Linked DNA regions of Homo sapiens. The protein of the gene in region 4 purifies or fractionates together with the protein of the main gene of each other region. This does not show direct contact. Each region holds a gene or a part of one and is shown on either strand. Other genes may lie near its edges. The genes, in order: LIN54, NDRG1, PGD, EIF4H and KGD4.

Evidence for each region.
Region 1: the proteins of EIF4H (region 4) and LIN54 purify together in Homo sapiens (co-immunoprecipitation; one large-scale study listed by IntAct). This does not show direct contact.
Region 2: the proteins of EIF4H (region 4) and NDRG1 fractionate together in Homo sapiens (co-fractionation; one large-scale study listed by BioGRID). This does not show direct contact.
Region 3: the proteins of EIF4H (region 4) and PGD fractionate together in Homo sapiens (co-fractionation; one large-scale study listed by BioGRID). This does not show direct contact.
Region 5: the proteins of EIF4H (region 4) and KGD4 fractionate together in Homo sapiens (co-fractionation; one large-scale study listed by BioGRID). This does not show direct contact.

What each region holds. Positions count from the first base shown.
Region 1 is NC_000004.12:83,000,816-83,004,337, reverse strand, and holds part of LIN54 (protein lin-54 homolog), read left to right. Parts: intron 1-3,522. UniProt on the Homo sapiens protein: Component of the DREAM complex, a multiprotein complex that can both act as a transcription activator or repressor depending on the context. In G0 phase, the complex binds to more than 800 promoters and is required for repression of E2F target genes.
Region 2 is NC_000008.11:133,287,239-133,290,760, reverse strand, and holds part of NDRG1 (protein NDRG1), read left to right. Parts: intron 1-3,522. UniProt on the Homo sapiens protein: Stress-responsive protein involved in hormone responses, cell growth, and differentiation. Acts as a tumor suppressor in many cell types. Necessary but not sufficient for p53/TP53-mediated caspase activation and apoptosis.
Region 3 is NC_000001.11:10,418,523-10,421,018, forward strand, and holds the end of PGD (6-phosphogluconate dehydrogenase, decarboxylating), read left to right. Parts: intron 1-303; coding exon 304-403; intron 404-894; coding exon 895-1,017; intron 1,018-1,107; coding exon 1,108-1,227; 3' UTR 1,228-1,989; downstream 1,990-2,496. UniProt on the Homo sapiens protein: Catalyzes the oxidative decarboxylation of 6-phosphogluconate to ribulose 5-phosphate and CO(2), with concomitant reduction of NADP to NADPH.
Region 4 is NC_000007.14:74,184,343-74,187,864, reverse strand, and holds part of EIF4H (eukaryotic translation initiation factor 4H), read right to left. Parts: intron 255-3,522; coding exon 67-254; intron 1-66. UniProt on the Homo sapiens protein: Stimulates the RNA helicase activity of EIF4A in the translation initiation complex. Binds weakly mRNA.
Region 5 is NC_000005.10:69,227,741-69,230,661, forward strand, and holds the end of KGD4 (alpha-ketoglutarate dehydrogenase component 4), read left to right. Parts: intron 1-459; coding exon 460-647; intron 648-1,467; coding exon 1,468-1,485; 3' UTR 1,486-2,418; downstream 2,419-2,921. UniProt on the Homo sapiens protein: Molecular adapter that is necessary to form a stable 2-oxoglutarate dehydrogenase enzyme complex (OGDHC). Enables the specific recruitment of E3 subunit to E2 subunit in the 2-oxoglutarate dehydrogenase complex (OGDHC).

The DNA.
Region 1 (3,522 bases), on a different chromosome or scaffold from region 4:
AACCTCCGCCTCCCAGGTTCAAGCGATTTTCCTGCCTCAGCCTCCCAGGTAGCTGGGACTACAGGTGCCCACCACCACTCCCAGCTAATTTTTTTGGTATTTTTAGTAGAGACGGGGTGTCACTGTATTGGCCAGGCTGGTCTCAAACTCCTGACCTCGCAATCTGTCCACCTCAGCCTCTGAAAATGCTGGGATTACAGGCATAAGCCACCGCACCCGGCCTGTTTTCTACATACTCTATATCCTATGATGACTCAATTTCTACACCACTCTTCTGTGTTTGAATGCTGCAAGTCTTTCTTTCTTAAATCTCAGGTTAAGTGGTTTGGCTTTTATTTGGCATAAATATGTCATTTATTTTATAAGTCCATTTTGTGCCTTTTTCTTTAGCTCATCTGAATTCTTGTACATTGATTTTGGATGTGATGTGGTTATTCAGATGATCCAGAATGTACTTTATAAAAATACTATTGAAATGAAAATACAAACCTTTCTTTTTTAAAAAAAAATTAGGTCAGGTGCAGTAGCTCATGCCTGTAATTCCAGCACTCTGTGAGGCCGAGGTGGGTGGATGGCTTGAGCTCAGGTGTTTGAGACTAGCCTGGGCAACATGGCGAGACCCCGTCTCTAGAAAAACTAGACAAATTAGCTAGTCATGGTGGTGCACACCTGTAGTCCCAGCTACTTCAGAGGCTGAGGTGGGAGGATCACTTGAGCCCCCAGGTGGAGGTTGCTGTGAGCCAAGATTGCGCCACTGCATTCCAGCCTGGGCAACAGAGTGAGACTCTGTCTCAGAAAAAATTTATTGTTTTAATTTGTTTTTTTCATGGAACACTTCACAAATTTGCATGTCGTCCTTGTGCAGGGGCCATACCAGTCTTCTCTGGGAAATACAAACCTTTCAAAACTTCATCAGAACTCATGGCTTATAGTCTACTGCTCCCAGTTTAGTTTGAGAAATATAGTTCTATAACTGGTTTTTTAGTTGTTGATGTTTTATTTTAGAAATAAAAGCTAAAATCTGGCCGGGCGAGGTGGCTTACACCTGTAATCCCAGCACTTTGGGAGACCGAGCTGGGCGGATCAATTGAGGTCAGGAGTTCAAGGCCAGCCTGGCCAACATGGTGAAACCCTGTGTCTACTAAAAATACAAAAAATAAGCCAAGCGTGGTGGCACACGTCTGTAATCCCAGCTACTCAGGAGGCTGAGGCGGGAGAATCACTTGAACTTGGGAGGCGGAGGTTGCAGTGAGTGGAGATCACGCCACTGCACTCCAACCTGGGTGACAGAGCAAGACTCCATCTCACACTCACAAAAAAAAGCTTAAATCTAAGTGGTATAGTTAACCAGTTAATGCTGGTAGTAAGCTCTAGGTACAAAAAATACAGTTGACCCTTGAACAATGTGGGGATTAGGGACACCAACCCCAAGCAGTCATATCCACATATGCATATAATGTTTGAATCCCCAAAAACTTAACTACTAATAGCCTATTGTTGACCAGAAGCCTTACGGATAACATACATAGTTGATTAACACATATTTTGTATATTTATTACATATCATATTCTTACAATAAAGTATGCTAGAGAAAAAATGTTATTACAAAAACCGTAAGGAGGAGAAAATATAGTTACTGTTCATGAACTGAAGTGGATCATCATAAAGGTCCTCATCCTTGTCTTCATGTTGAGGAGGCTGAGGAAGAGCAGCGGTAGGTCTTGCTGTCTGGAGTGGCAGAGGCAGAAGAGGTGGAGGAGGTAGATGAGGAGACAGGAGAGGTGGGCACACTTGATGTAACTTTATGGAAATACATTGTAATTTCTGTCTAACTTTTTTTCCCCTGCCTCCCTCCCTCCTTCCCTCCTCCCTCCTTCCTCCTTCCCTCCCCTCCTCCCTCCCTCCCTCCTTTCTATCCCTCCTTCCTTCCCTCCTTCCTTCCTTCCTCCCTCACCCTTGCTTTTTTTTTAGAGGTGAGGTCTCGCTATGTTGCTGGTCTTGAACTCCACCTGGGCTTAGGCGATCCTCATGCCTCAGTCTCCCAAGTAGCTGGGATTAAAGGCATGCACCACTATGCTTGATTTCTCTAAAAATATTTCTCTGTGGTAGCAAGCTTTTTTTCACTGTTTGCTTTAGCTTCATTGTGTGTATCGTAGAAGGGTCCATGTCATAAAAAATTTCAAAAGCAGTCTTGAATAATGCCGATTGTCTACTGTCAGTTCGTTTTCTGTGCTTCTTCTACATCTTCTTTCTCATTGTCTGGCACTAGTTCGGAAGCACTCATCTCCATCAAGTTGTCCCCTGTTAATTCCTCTGCTATGGTATCTGTTAGCTCTTGAATTTCTCCAAGATCCCTCCCTTCCTTCCTTCCTTCCTTCCTTCCTTCCTTCCTTCCTTCCTTCCTTCCCTCCCTCCCTCCCTCCCTCCCTCCCTCCCTCCCTCCTTCCTTCCTTCCTTCCTTCCTTCCTTCCTATCCTTTTTTTTTTTTTGAGACAGAGTCTTGCTCTGTCGCCCAGGCTGGAGTGCAGTGGTGCGATCTTCGCTCACTGCAAGCTCTGCCTCCCGGGTTCATGCCATTCTCCTGCCTCAGCCTCCCTGGTAGCTGGGACAACAGGCGCCCGCCACCACGCCCAGCTAATTTTTTTTTGTATTTTTAGTAGAGACGGGGTTTCACCATGTTTGCCAGGATGCTCTTGATCTCCTGACCTCGTGATCTGCCTGCCTCGGCCTCCCAAGGTGCTGGGATTACAGGCGTGAGCCACTGCGCCCGGCTTCTTTTTCTTTTCTTTTTGACAGGATTTCACTCCTGCTCAGGCTGGAGTGCGGTGGTGTGATCATAGCTCACCGCATCCTTGACCTCCTGGGCTCAAGTGATCCTTCCACCTGAGCCTCCTGAGTAGCTGGGACTACAGGTGCACACCACCACACCTGGCTAACTTTTAAATTTTTTGTAGAGATGGGATCTCACTAGGTTGCCCAGGTTACTCAAACTGCGGGGCTCAAGTGATCCCCTCACCTTGGCCTCCCAAAGTGTTGGGATTACAGTCATGAGCCAGTGTGCCTTACCCAAGATGCATATCTTGAAACCCTTCACCTCCCACCATTTTTGTCATATCCACAATTTATTTCATGATTTTCTTCATTGGTTATGTCATAAATCCTATGAAATCATGCACAATGTCTAGACACAGTTTTCTCTGTAAGAATTTATTGCTTTTGGGCTGGGCTTGGTGGCTCATGCCTATAATCCCAGCACTTTGGGAGGCCAAGGTGGGCAGATCACCTGAGGTTAGGAGTTTGAGACCAGCCTGGCCAACATGGCAGAACCCCATCTCTCCTAAAAATACAAAAATTAGCTGGGCGTGGTGGCGCGTGCCTTTGATCCCAGCTATTTGGGAGGCTGAGGCAGGAGAATTGCTTGAACCTGGGAGGCAGAGGTTGCAGTGAGCTGAGATCAAGATTGCGCCACTGCACTTCACCCTGGGACTCTATCTCCAAAAAAAAAAAAAGAATTTATTGCT
Region 2 (3,522 bases), on a different chromosome or scaffold from region 4:
GAGAAAAGTTCAAGATGCTGGTTTTGCCAAAAGCTCAAGCCTGCTCATGATGGCTCAGTGGTGACTGCAGGGTGGAGGAGAGGCATGTGACTGTCCCAGCTGACCTCCACACGCTGAAAGCCTCATGGTCACGTGCAGCCCACCTTACAACGTTGTATCTGGGCCACGGGTGGTGGTGAGGACTGTGGATATATTTAGGGCAATGTGAGATCATTGTCAACATTCCCTTTAAGGTTGCTTTAACCTTAAAGCAGCCAGCTTGATGCTTGCTGACTTGGGGCACACATCTTAACCTCTTGATGCCTCAGTTTCCCCGTCTGTTAAATGGTGACATGCTGGCACCTCCCTCCTAGGGTTTCTGTGAGGCTTAAAGGAAGTACCGGGTTTAGAGTCCAGTTAGTGCCACAGATACTGTTCCTGGTGCTGTTTTTGTGGTGTGTCTGTGTAGGGTTACATTGTTGCCTTCCTGTGGCTGCTCTTCCTGGTGGGCGGAACCTGGAACTTCTAGAACAGATCATGGATGTTTCTCTGCTGGATACCCCTTCAGCCTCACCCTGTGGGAGTTGTGGCGGGGCCCAGGAGAGTTTGCTCAAGAGGGTGTGCAGGTGGGTGGCAGAGCTGGAGCAAGGCACTAGTCTTAACAGACAGGAGTCTGAGGCTGGCAGAAGTGGGGGCCTTGGTCCAAGGTGCGGGGCTAATCTGGCCAGAGCTGAGCCTGGCAGGGCCTTGGTAAGACCCTGTGGCCCTTTTGTCTTGGTGAAGCACCTTCCTGCCTGGGTTTCCATTTGCCTGTAAGTTTGTTGTGGACAGCGTGATCTCCATAGACGTACACTGTGCCTACTTTACAGATGGAGAAACCAAGGCCCAGAGAGGAAGTGACTTGCTCAGAGTCATGGAATAGGAAAGTGGCAGGGTCCCCATGCCCTGATTCCTAGGCCAGCGTTCCTGCTGCCCCACTGAGGTTTTTGGGAATCACAGGCTCTGTGTGTCCCCCTCAGTCCCCCAGGGGCTGTTGAACAGTTCTCAAGTGGTGTCGGATTACTGAAGATGCCTCTGCCCACTGCCCTCCCAGGTCCCAGGGTCACGGGTCACGTTCTTTTCTTCCTCGGGCAGATCCTGGCCTTGGCTTTGCCTGGCACCTGTGATCCAGCTCTCCTCTGACTCTCCTGGGTCTGCTGGACTGGAAGGGTATTTGTGTAGCCCCTCTTGGGCCCTCATTACTCATTGACAGACAGTGCTGGTGGAGAGAAGGGCCCCAGTGGTGACGCACTGGGCCTGATAATCAGAAACCTTGGTGGCATTTGCTGAGCATTTTCCATGTGTCCCTCTCCTCGCTGGGACTCTAGGACTGAAACCCAGGCCACATCCTCACAGATGTCCTGGCATCTCCAAGGCAACCCTGAAAGGAAAGTATGTTGATGAATTAAGCAACTGTTTGCTTAATTCTCCATGCCATTCTTGAATTTAAGCCCCACTGCTGATCATTGGGAGCAGGAGTTAGCATGCCCATTGACAGACAAGCAAACTGAGGCAAAGAGGTTAGATAGCCAGGCATGGTGGCATATGCCTGTAATCTCAGCTACTCAGGAGGCCGGAGTAGGAGGATCACTTGAACCCAGGAGTTTGAGACCAGTCTGGGCAACATAGCAAGACCCTGTCTCTCTAAAAAACAAGATGAATAATACATTTTTAAAAAGAGATTCGATAAATTATGCAGGATCACAGAGCTAATAAATGGTGACACCATGGCCTGCAAGCCTTCCCCCAGCTCCTGGCTACCTTTCGCTTCTCTGGCATTGGTCTTCTCGGAATTCCTCCCAGGCAGGTGGATGGGAAAAGAAGTGAAGATACAGGCTGGCAGCTGGTGCTGTGACCTGGAGCCCTGTTTTTGGTGCTAAGCTGGGTTTTAGCTGAAGGAGACCTGCTGGAGGGGTTTCTTCTGTGCTTCTTGGGGAGCAAAGATGGCCTTGGAGATGGAGACACGGTTTGTCAGTCCCAAGCCACTCCAAAGGTGGGGCTGGTGGGCTAGGAGTCAGCCCTGGTTCCCCCGCCATGCTGTGTGTGGCCCTGCCTTGCCACCCCACCTGCTGGAGGACCTCTTTGATGCTTTCTAGTGGGTCCCAACATTCTGTGATTAGGACTTTGCATGAGGCAGAGGGAGGGCAGGAGCTGGAGTCCAGCAAGGACCTCAAGCCCAGGGACAGGCTCCACCTGCCACACTTGCTAAGCCGTGAGGGCCTCAGGTGCCCGGGAGGAGGGAGCAGGAGTGGAAGCACCAGCTCGAGCCGCCAAACCAGGTCACGTATCACCTGCCATTTCCTGCTGGCAGAAGGAGATCACAGACACCAGAAGACAGCAGCTTCTGCCAGAACTGGGTCCTTCCATGATTCTCAGGTGGTGACTTTGAATCCCAGAAAAAGTGTTTTGGGGAGAGTGGAGTGAAGGAAGAGTGTGAACATTGGATCTGACTCCACTCCAGCCCCTGTGCTGCAGCCAGCAGGGTGAGCTCAGGACAGCTGGCAGCCGCTTGGGCCCAGCCCCCTCCTCCGTGAATGAAGGTGGTGGGGAGTGCACGTGTGCGTGTGAGTGCGTGTGAGTATAAATGACTGTGGATGTGAGAGTCCATGAAAGTGAGAATGTATCAGTGTGTAAGAAAGTGTGAGTATGTGAGAATGAGTGTGTTTGTGAGAATGTATGTATGTGTGAGTATAAGTGTGTGAATGTGAGAATGTCTGAGTGTGAGAATGAAAGTTTGCAAGTGTGTCAGTGTGAGGGAATGTGTGAGTGCATTTGAGAGTGTGTGTGTGTGTGTGTGCGTGTGTGCACGCATGCACTAGATTAAATAAGAATGCATCCAACTGACATTTTCTGGATACTGTTACCTACTAGGAATTACTAAAATCAGCTATTCCAGAGGAGGGTGGATGTCGCACCAGGGGACATTTGGCAACGTTTGCAGATTCTTTTGCTGGTCGCAGCGTGGGGTGTATGCTGTGGGCATGTGGTGGGCAGAGGCCAGGGATGCTGCTGAGCCTCCTCCCGTGCTCAGGGCAGCCCCTAAGGCAGAGGCTGCTTGTGGGGCCCAAATGTCAGCAGTGCTGAGCTGAGGATCTCTGTCCAGGAGGCACAGACGCTGTCCTGGATGCTGTCCAGACAGCATCTGCTCTGCCCTCCAGGGGGACAGACAGACAGTGGACACAGCCCAGATGCAGCCTGATGAGTGAGCCCAAGGGAGTGCCTGTCCCCTCGGGACTGTGAGCTCCGTGGGGGCAGGAACTGGGTCTGTTTGCTCATGATCCCCAGATGAGTCCCATAGCCAGTCTCATCACCATAGCTGGTGTTATTTTTGTTCTGAGCTCTGTGTTGGGCACATAGAACCTAGTGGGTAGAAACCTCTGAATAAATCCTGAGTTTTCCATCCTGCTTCCGTGAACTCAGATGTTCTTTGAGGGCCAGCCTGGTGGCGTGGGGGCTGGGAGTGGGCAGATTGTAGGGAGCCAAGTCCTGGGGTGGAGTGGGGTT
Region 3 (2,496 bases), on a different chromosome or scaffold from region 4:
TCCCAGCGTTTTGGGAGGCCGAGGCAGGCGGATCACGAGGTCAGGAGATCCAGACCATCCTGGCTAACACGGTGAAACCCTGTCTCTACTAAAAATACAAAAATTAGCCGGTTGTAGTGGTGCGTGCCTGTAATCCCAGCTACTGGCGAGGCTGAGGCAGGAGAATCGCTTGAACCTGGGAGGTGGAGGTTGCTGTGAGCTGAGATCGTGCCACTCCACTCCAGCCTGGTGACAAAGCGGGACTCCGTCTCAAAAAAAAAAAAAAAAAGACTCATTGCTTTTTTCCCCCCTTGATTATTTCAGTGTATTCCTAGGAAAGATAAAGGATGCATTTGATCGAAACCCGGAACTTCAGAACCTCCTACTGGACGACTTCTTTAAGTCAGCTGTTGAAAACTGCCAGGTATGTAGCCTAGGGCTGGTGCCATGGTTACTCTACCTCCCTGGGGCCATCAGTTGTGATGTTTGGTTTTTTGTTTTTTTTTTTTGGTTTTTTGTTTTTTTGAGACAGAGTCTCGCTCTGTCACCCAGGCTGGAGTACAGTGGCATGATCTTGGCTCACTGCAACCTCCGCCTCCTGGGTTCAAGCGATTCTCCTGCCCCAGCCTTCCTAAGTAGCTGGGACTACAGGTGTGCCAACATACCTGGCTAATTTTTTTTTTTTTTTTGTATTTTTAGTAGAGATGGGGTTTCACCATGTTGGCTAGACTGGTCTTGAACTCCTGACCTCGTGATCCGCCCACCTCAGCCTTCCAAAGTGCTGGGATGACAGGCGTGAGCCACCGCGCCTGGCCTAACCATCAGTTTTTCATTTACCCACATTGATATGAATGAAAATCTATCCGCGTCACCAGGGGCAGATCACTAATCTCTGGCCGTGCGTTTTGTGCTCAGGACTCCTGGCGGCGGGCAGTCAGCACTGGGGTCCAGGCTGGCATTCCCATGCCCTGTTTTACCACTGCCCTCTCCTTCTATGACGGGTACAGACATGAGATGCTTCCAGCCAGCCTCATCCAGGTAAGCCTGTGGAGCAGGGATTAACCTGGCTGGCCCCTCGGGGGCGTGCGCCATGGACTGTCCTGACCAACCTACTCTCTCGTTTCCTAGGCTCAGCGGGATTACTTCGGGGCTCACACCTATGAACTCTTGGCCAAACCAGGGCAGTTTATCCACACCAACTGGACAGGCCATGGTGGCACCGTGTCATCCTCGTCATACAATGCCTGATCATGCTGCTCCTGTCACCCTCCACGATTCCACAGACCAGGACATTCCATGTGCCTCATGGCACTGCCACCTGGCCCTTTGCCCTATTTTCTGTTCAGTTTTTTAAAAGTGTTGTAAGAGACTCCTGAGGAAGACACACAGTTTATTTGTAAAGTAGCTCTGTGAGAGCCACCATGCCCTCTGCCCTTGCCTCTTGGGACTGACCAGGAGCTGCTCATGTGCGTGAGAGTGGGAACCATCTCCTTGCGGCAGTGGCTTCCGCGTGCCCCGTGTGCTGGTGCGGTTCCCATCACGCAGACAGGAAGGGTGTTTGCGCACTCTGATCAACTGGAACCTCTGTATCATGCGGCTGAATTCCCTTTTTCCTTTACTCAATAAAAGCTACATCAGACTGATGCTCTTTCTCCAGATTCTTAGTCTCACCTCGGCCACATGGAGCCATTATCCCCATTGGCAGAAAGATTTTTCTTTAAAAAAAAAGACTAGAATAACACAAGAAACCACATTTAGGATTATGCTTCACTCAGAGGAGGCAGGCAGGGAGGACACACCAGGGGCTTTAATACACTGGGCATGTTTTCTTTCTCCAATTGGGCAATGGGTACATGGACGTTCACTGTAACGTGCTTTTTCTTTCGTCTTTTTTTTTTTTTTTTTTTTTTTTGCTCCTGGCAAGCTGTGCGTGACATTCTTTATGGCTTTTTGTATGTCAAATACTTCATACTAAACTTTCTAGAGAATTAAACTTTAATGATGGGCTCAGCTTGGTCTGATTTATTTCCTTTCCCACACCTGTCTCTACTTGCTCTAAGCCAGGCCCAGGGATTTTGAACAAGCTAAGCCGGCTCCTTAAACTAGGCTTTTCACTTTATCTTACTTACTCAGAGAAGATAAAACCTGCCAGTGATATTGTTGTGTGGCCTGGGGCCAGTGTGACTGTTCCCTGCAGCGGTTTGACTTCATGATGATTTCCCTGGAGTGTTAAAGTCCTAAGAGTTGCCTAAGAGGAGCGAGCAGCGCCTGTGCCTCGACAGCTGGTGTCTACAGTGTGACCTCTGACCTCTCGGCTAATGTCAGTGAAGGAGACAATTTTCATTAAATCACCAACTTTTAATTTATTTTTCTTTTTTTTGAGACAGAGTCTCGCTCTGTCACCCAGGCTGGAGTGCAGTGGCGTGGTCTTGGCTCATTGCAAGCTCCACCTCCCGGGTTCACACCATTCTCCCACCTCAGCCTCCAGAGTAGCTGGGACTACAGGTGCCCGCCACC
Region 4 (3,522 bases):
TTAGAACCCCTTCCCATCCTCCCCTACACTTTACAGTAATATACAATAAGAATCCCCCAAACTCACCTTTAAATTTATCTGTGTCTTTGTCTCTGACTAGCCGTACACTCCTTATGCTGAGATCCTTAAAGATAGCATCTATGTCGCCCTGAACCGTATTGAAAGGTAGATTTCCTACGTATGCTGTGTAGGGGGGCTCTGTGGGCAACTCCTTCTGGCTACGGGAACCATGGCCACCAGCACTGCCGCGGGACCTAGGAGGGGAGACAAACAGGATTCAAGTGTGCCCAGAGTGGAATAAGCAAAACAAGTAAAGCGGTCTTCCGCTGAGCTACGCCGCCAGCGCCCCAGGTGAGGCACTCTGCTCGATGTACCACAAGACTGTTACAGAGAATGGCTGGAGAAACAAAAAAAAAGGAAAAGAAAAATTTTTTGAGACAGACTGTCACTCTGTCACCCAGGCTGGAGTGCAGTGGCACAATCTTGGCTCACTGGAACCTCTGCTTCCCGGGTTCAAGAGATTCTCCTGTCTCAGCCTCCTAAGGATGCTGAGATTACAGGCATGTGCCACCACACCTGGCTAATTTGTGCATTTTTAGTAGAAACAGGGTTTCACCATGTTGGCCAGGCTGGTCTCCAACTTCTGACCTCAGGTGGTCTGCCTGCCTCACCCTCCCAAAGTGCTGGGATTACAGGTGTGAGCCACCATGCCCAGCCCAAACGTAACACACCTTCCTAAGACAACTGCTTCTCTCCTATTCACTCAGAATCTGTATCTGCAGTATTTACATCCTAAAACCTAAGCAAGTACCCTCCTTCACACACCGTGGTTCTAAGAAATACAGAAATGGACAGTCTAGAAGTAATGTTGTATTCAGAAGAAGGATTACTGAAGTTGTTTACGTTTAACACATTCATACATAATAGAATTATTTCTCCTACCGCTTGAACCTGGGAAGCGGAGGCTGCAGTGAGCCAAGATCGCACCACTGCACTTCAGCTCACGCGACAGAGACTCCGTCTCAAAAAAAAAAAAAAAAAAAAAAAAAAAAAAAAAAAAAAAAAAAAAAAAAAAATTTCTCCTTGTTGCCTGATTATGGGCATAAGAATGTCCTAATAAAAATTTTAGATGTCACACAGCAAGTACTGACGTACCTAACACTCTCGTGCAATACTTCACAGGGTCCTCAAATACATGCGTATGGCGTGCATTACCAATCCATTTCAACCTCGATGTCATCTCCTCAGCTGTATCAAGCGTCGTTTACTCTGCATAGGTATTGGTTTAAATCTAGCCTCTGTCACTTACTAGCATATGACCTTGAGAAGTTATTCAACTTCTCTAAGCTTTATTTTATTTGTAAAACTGAGTTAATCCTAATACAGCATTTTGGGAGGCCGAGGTGGGTGGATCACTTGAGGTCAGGAGTTCAAGATCAGCCTGACCAATGTGGTAAAACCCTGTCTCTACTAAAAATACAAAATTAGCTTGGTGTGGTGGTGCATGCCTGTAATCCCAGCTGCTGGGCAGGCTGAGGCAGGAGAATCGCTTGAACCCAGGAGGTGGAGGTTGTAGTGAGCCCATTGCACTCCAGCCTGGGCGACAGAGCGAGAGTCCATCTCAAAAAAAAAAAAAAGACATCAGAATATAGTATAAATAGATTATTATATTAAACGATATTTGCCATAAGAATGCCCCAGGAACGACTTAAAGTCGTTAGAAGTGAAGTGCCAAGATGGCCAACATTTGTTTTCAAGCAGGTCAGCATAAAGGGCATGTGTGCCGGTATACAGCAAGGATTCAGCAAACAAGGCAGAATAGTCACTTCTGCATCCACTAGCGTCATCCAACTGTACCATTATTTCAACCTTATTGTAGATTTGAAAATTTCCAAAATAAAACGTTTGGAAAACTCAGGAGGAAAAAAAAATTAAGGGGGTGATTTTTTTTTGAAACAGACATTTAACCCATTTCCTGTTTGCTCCAAGAATACCGTGCTGGCAGCCAACTGCAGTTTTTTTTTCTAAACGGGAAATGCGTTCAAATAAATGAGATCCTTCACAACAACCCAAGACCTGCCCAAAGTCACCCTCTTTGCAGGGGAAATATTAATATCCATCTTAGAGAGCAACCTGGTCTTTCATCTACATACTGCCAGAAACACAATGGAAATTCCACTTCTTCCTGAAGATAAATTCCAGGTGTCTTGCAGACAAATATTATTCATTAAAGCATTTTTCTAAAGTAGAAGGGTCAACCAAGCTGTGATGATTCTTTGATGGTTAAAAAAAAAAAAGCTTTTAAGTTTCATAATTCACAATTCCGGTACTTTCCAATAGGAAGTTCCACGTTCTGTTCTAAGACCACCAGAAAATAGGTTTACAAGTGAATTGCATCCTACCTGCCCACTTCTCCCATCTTTTCGGGCCTAGTAAATGTGACTTACTTTGCATTTCAATAACCTTTGCCAATAGTACTCTATCGCTGATATCTCCGAAATCATAAATCCTAAAATATTTTCAGTAAGATACTATTTAGGACGGGATAATAAATATATGAGTTACAGTATAAAGCCGGGCCCAGTGGCTCATGCCTGTAATCCCAACAGTTTGGGAGGCTGAGGCGGGAGGATCACTTAAAGCCAGGAGTTCAAGACCAGCCTGGGCAACACAGTAAGACCCCATCTCTATAAAAAATACAAAAAATTAGCCGGGAGTGATGGTCCACACTTGTAGTCCCAAGCTACCTGGGAGGCTGAGGTGGGAGGATCACCTGAGCCCAGGAGGTTGTTGCTGCAGTGAACTGTGATGGCACCACTGCACTCCAGCCTGGGTGACAGAAGGAGACTGTCTCCAACTGAAGAAACAACAACAACAACAAAAAGGCGGGGCACAGTGGCTCATACCTGTAATCCCAGCACTTCGGGAGGTCAAGGTGGGTGGATCACTTGAGGCCAGAAGTTCAAGACCAGCCTGGCCAACATGGTAAAACTCCGTCTCTACTAAAAATACAAAAACTAGCCAGGTGTGGTAGCACACACTTGTAATCCCAGCTACTTCAGAGGCTGAGGTGGAGCTTGCAGTGAGCTGAGACTGTGTCACTGCGCTTCAGCCTGGGCTACAGAGCGAGACTCCATCTCAAAAAAACAAAAACAAAAAAACACAAAAAACAAACAAAAAAGCACAAAAAACAACAACAAAACCAAACAAACAAAAAACAAGATACAGTATAAACATGTGGAAAACCATAAAAATGGAGGGTCAATGTTAAAAACAGTTTAAATTCATTACTCAACATTAAACATCTAGTGATGCGTAATGATGTTAAAAGACTGTCTTGTATGTAAGCAGCTCACAGTTGTGTGGGACGTATAAAACACATGTATATATGCAGGTATGTTTGTGTGTATGAATGTGTAACATATACATAAAAACTAAAAAGGAGGGTGAGGATGAAGAGAGATGATAAACTCTCGGGTGTTTGATGTAGTTGCTAAGTAAGGAAAATGGAGGTGCGAAGGC
Region 5 (2,921 bases), on a different chromosome or scaffold from region 4:
TAGGTTCCCCTAAAGGGTTGAATTCCACTAACTAGAAATTTCATTATTTTACATTTTTGTAATTCATTTACTTAAGACTGCCCCTTAGCTGGGTGCAGTGGCACATGCCTATAATCCTGACTACTCACAGGCTGAGGTGGGATGGCTGGCAGGATGTTTGCTTGAGCCCAGGAGTTCAAGATCAGCCTGGGCAACAAAGCAAGACCCCATCTGTAAACAATAAATGTATAAAAATTTTAAAGCTACCTCCTTATTTGTTTTTAAAAACCTTTATGAAATTATATATAGCCAACTGAGTTACTCTACAATATTTACCTTTTGGAATTATAATACTTCAAGAGTTATTTGAAGAATGACTTCATTTCAAGAATGACTTGATTATTTGATAGTATTTTAAGACTCAGTATTTTGACATCTGAACAATTTCTCTAATAAGGTCTTTTTTTTTTTTAATTTCAGTATCAGAAGCTTTGAGATCAGCAGGGCTACCATCTCACTCTTCTGTAATTTCACAACATTCTAAAGGAAGTAAATCACCAGATTTGCTGATGTATCAGGGTCCACCAGACACTGCAGAAATAATAAAAACATTACCTCAGAAATACAGAAGGAAACTTGTGTCTCAAGAAGAAATGGAATTTATCCAAGTATGTCGTTGCTCTTTATCCCAAGACTACGCAAAACACCATAACATTTGGGCTTTGGGGATTTCATTTGCTGATTTACATGCTATTCCTATTGTCTTGTCAGAGTGTGGTCAGAGCTAAGACAGGATGGTCAGGTAGGCCAAGACTATGAGAAAGAAACCATAGTCAAATCCCTCTGTAAATATGCATGATATATCAATATCAATAGATATAATCACATAAAAAACAGCTCTTTGGGGTCCTGAATAATTTTTCAGAGTGTAAAGAGCTTCTGATACCAAGAAATTTAAGGACAGGTCAACCTTGAGTCCCTTCCAGGTCTGAAATTATAAGAATTGATAAGAGGGCTGGGCATGGTGGCTCATGCCTGTAATCCCAGCACTTTGGGAGGCCAAGGCAGGTGGGTCACCTGAGGTCAGGACTTGGAAACCAGCCTGGCCAATGTGGTGAAACCTCGTCTCTACTGAAAATACAAAAATTAGCTGGGTGTGGTGGTGGGTACCTGTAATCCCAGCTACTCGGGAGGCTGAGGCAGGAGAATCTCTTGAACCCGGGAGGCGGAGGTTGCAGTGAGCCAAGGTCACGCCACTGCACTCTAGCTTGGGCAAGAGTGAAACTCCGGAAACTCCATCTCAAAAAAAAAAAAAAAAAAAAAAAAAAGAATTGATATGAGTACCCAAAAGTTTTGACTAATTCAAAACTATTTTTTAAAAACCAAAGATTACTTACTGAAGATTGTATAAATTTGTAAAATTGCCATCAAAACATTTCCTGAGTCAATTTAACATCTAATCTTACTGCTTTATTTTTTCCTTTTCAGCGTGGAGGTCCTGAATAACCATGGTGGCTGCTGTTTGTCATCAGACAATAGAATTGTCTTTACAATAAAGGACTTCCAAAATGACAGATGAGAAACTGTATATTAAACACCTTTAATAAATATTATGAAAAAAATGAAATATAGAAAATTTAGATGGACACTTGTATTTCCTAATTTATGTATCTTGGTCAGCTTCTCCACAAGCTTACCTAATTGTTTATATACTTTATACTTATTAAAGTATACATTTTTAAATGTTAGCCTATTAATTTACTCTTGATTATCAAACATTACCAGTGTTGAACTATTAAAAGCACACAATGTGTAGTAAACTATCATAGGATTCCCATAATTTCACTTTACTTTCTGTTTAGGCATGGAAAAATTTATCAGTCAGAATTGCTGTTTTAGGGACATGATTTTCCTGAAATTGGGTGAGGATCAGTGAAATAATTACTCTATTACTTGTTCTTAATTCTCTGTTCTCTAATGTTTTTTCATTCACAAGTTTACTGGAGTATAACTGGCTTAGTAAGTATATCCTACTCTGAATGATAAAAATATAGTCAAGCTAAAATAGGTGACTATACTATTAAGATAGAGATCATACAAAAGATTCCAAAGAAAGTCAAAAAGTGTAAAATGGAAAATAAGAGATCAAAATGAATATAGCATAGGAATAAAGATTTCACTAGAAATTGCAATTTATTATGTTTTGGAGGTTGTAAGGAAGTCTTGTTTTTTGGTTTATTTTACTGTTTTGTGATCTTGTATGCAAATCCTGATAACCATTAACCTTCTCAAACTTAATGTCTGAGAGCCTCATAAAATCAACATATTTACTTATTAAGCAGTTTATGAAACTTTAATGGGGCCCCTCCTGTGCCAAGGGTACGTATATTGTGAAGTAAAGCCTCACAAAGCTAAATAAATTCTCTTCCATACCTTTAATGATTTCTAGAATATGCTTTAAAGAAGTCCTCCCTGAGAGTTAAGGGTAGGTCATGAGCAAGAAATAGAATTGGCTTTGAGTATGCTTCTGTATTTACTCAGTTGACTGTGGGTTAATTTTTACTTATTTCTACTACTCCACAGAGTTGATCTACTTCTCTTATAAATTTTTTGCTGTGGCCTAGTGTAAATGTTGTTCAGCACAAATATGAGAGTTTGATGCTGGCAATAAGCTGTTCAGGTGACTCATTGAAAAACATGATTCAGGCCAGGTGCAGTGGCTCATGCTTTGTTAATACCAGCACTTTGGGGAGCCAAGGCAGGTTGATCACCTGAGGTCAGGAGTTCAAGACCAGCCTGGCCGGCAGGTGAAACCCCGCCTCTACTAAAAATACAAAAATTAGCCAGGCAATGTGACACACACCTATAATCTCAGCTACAGGGAAGCTGAGGCCAGAGAATCACTTGAACCCAGGAGGCAGAGGTTGCAGTGAGCCAACATT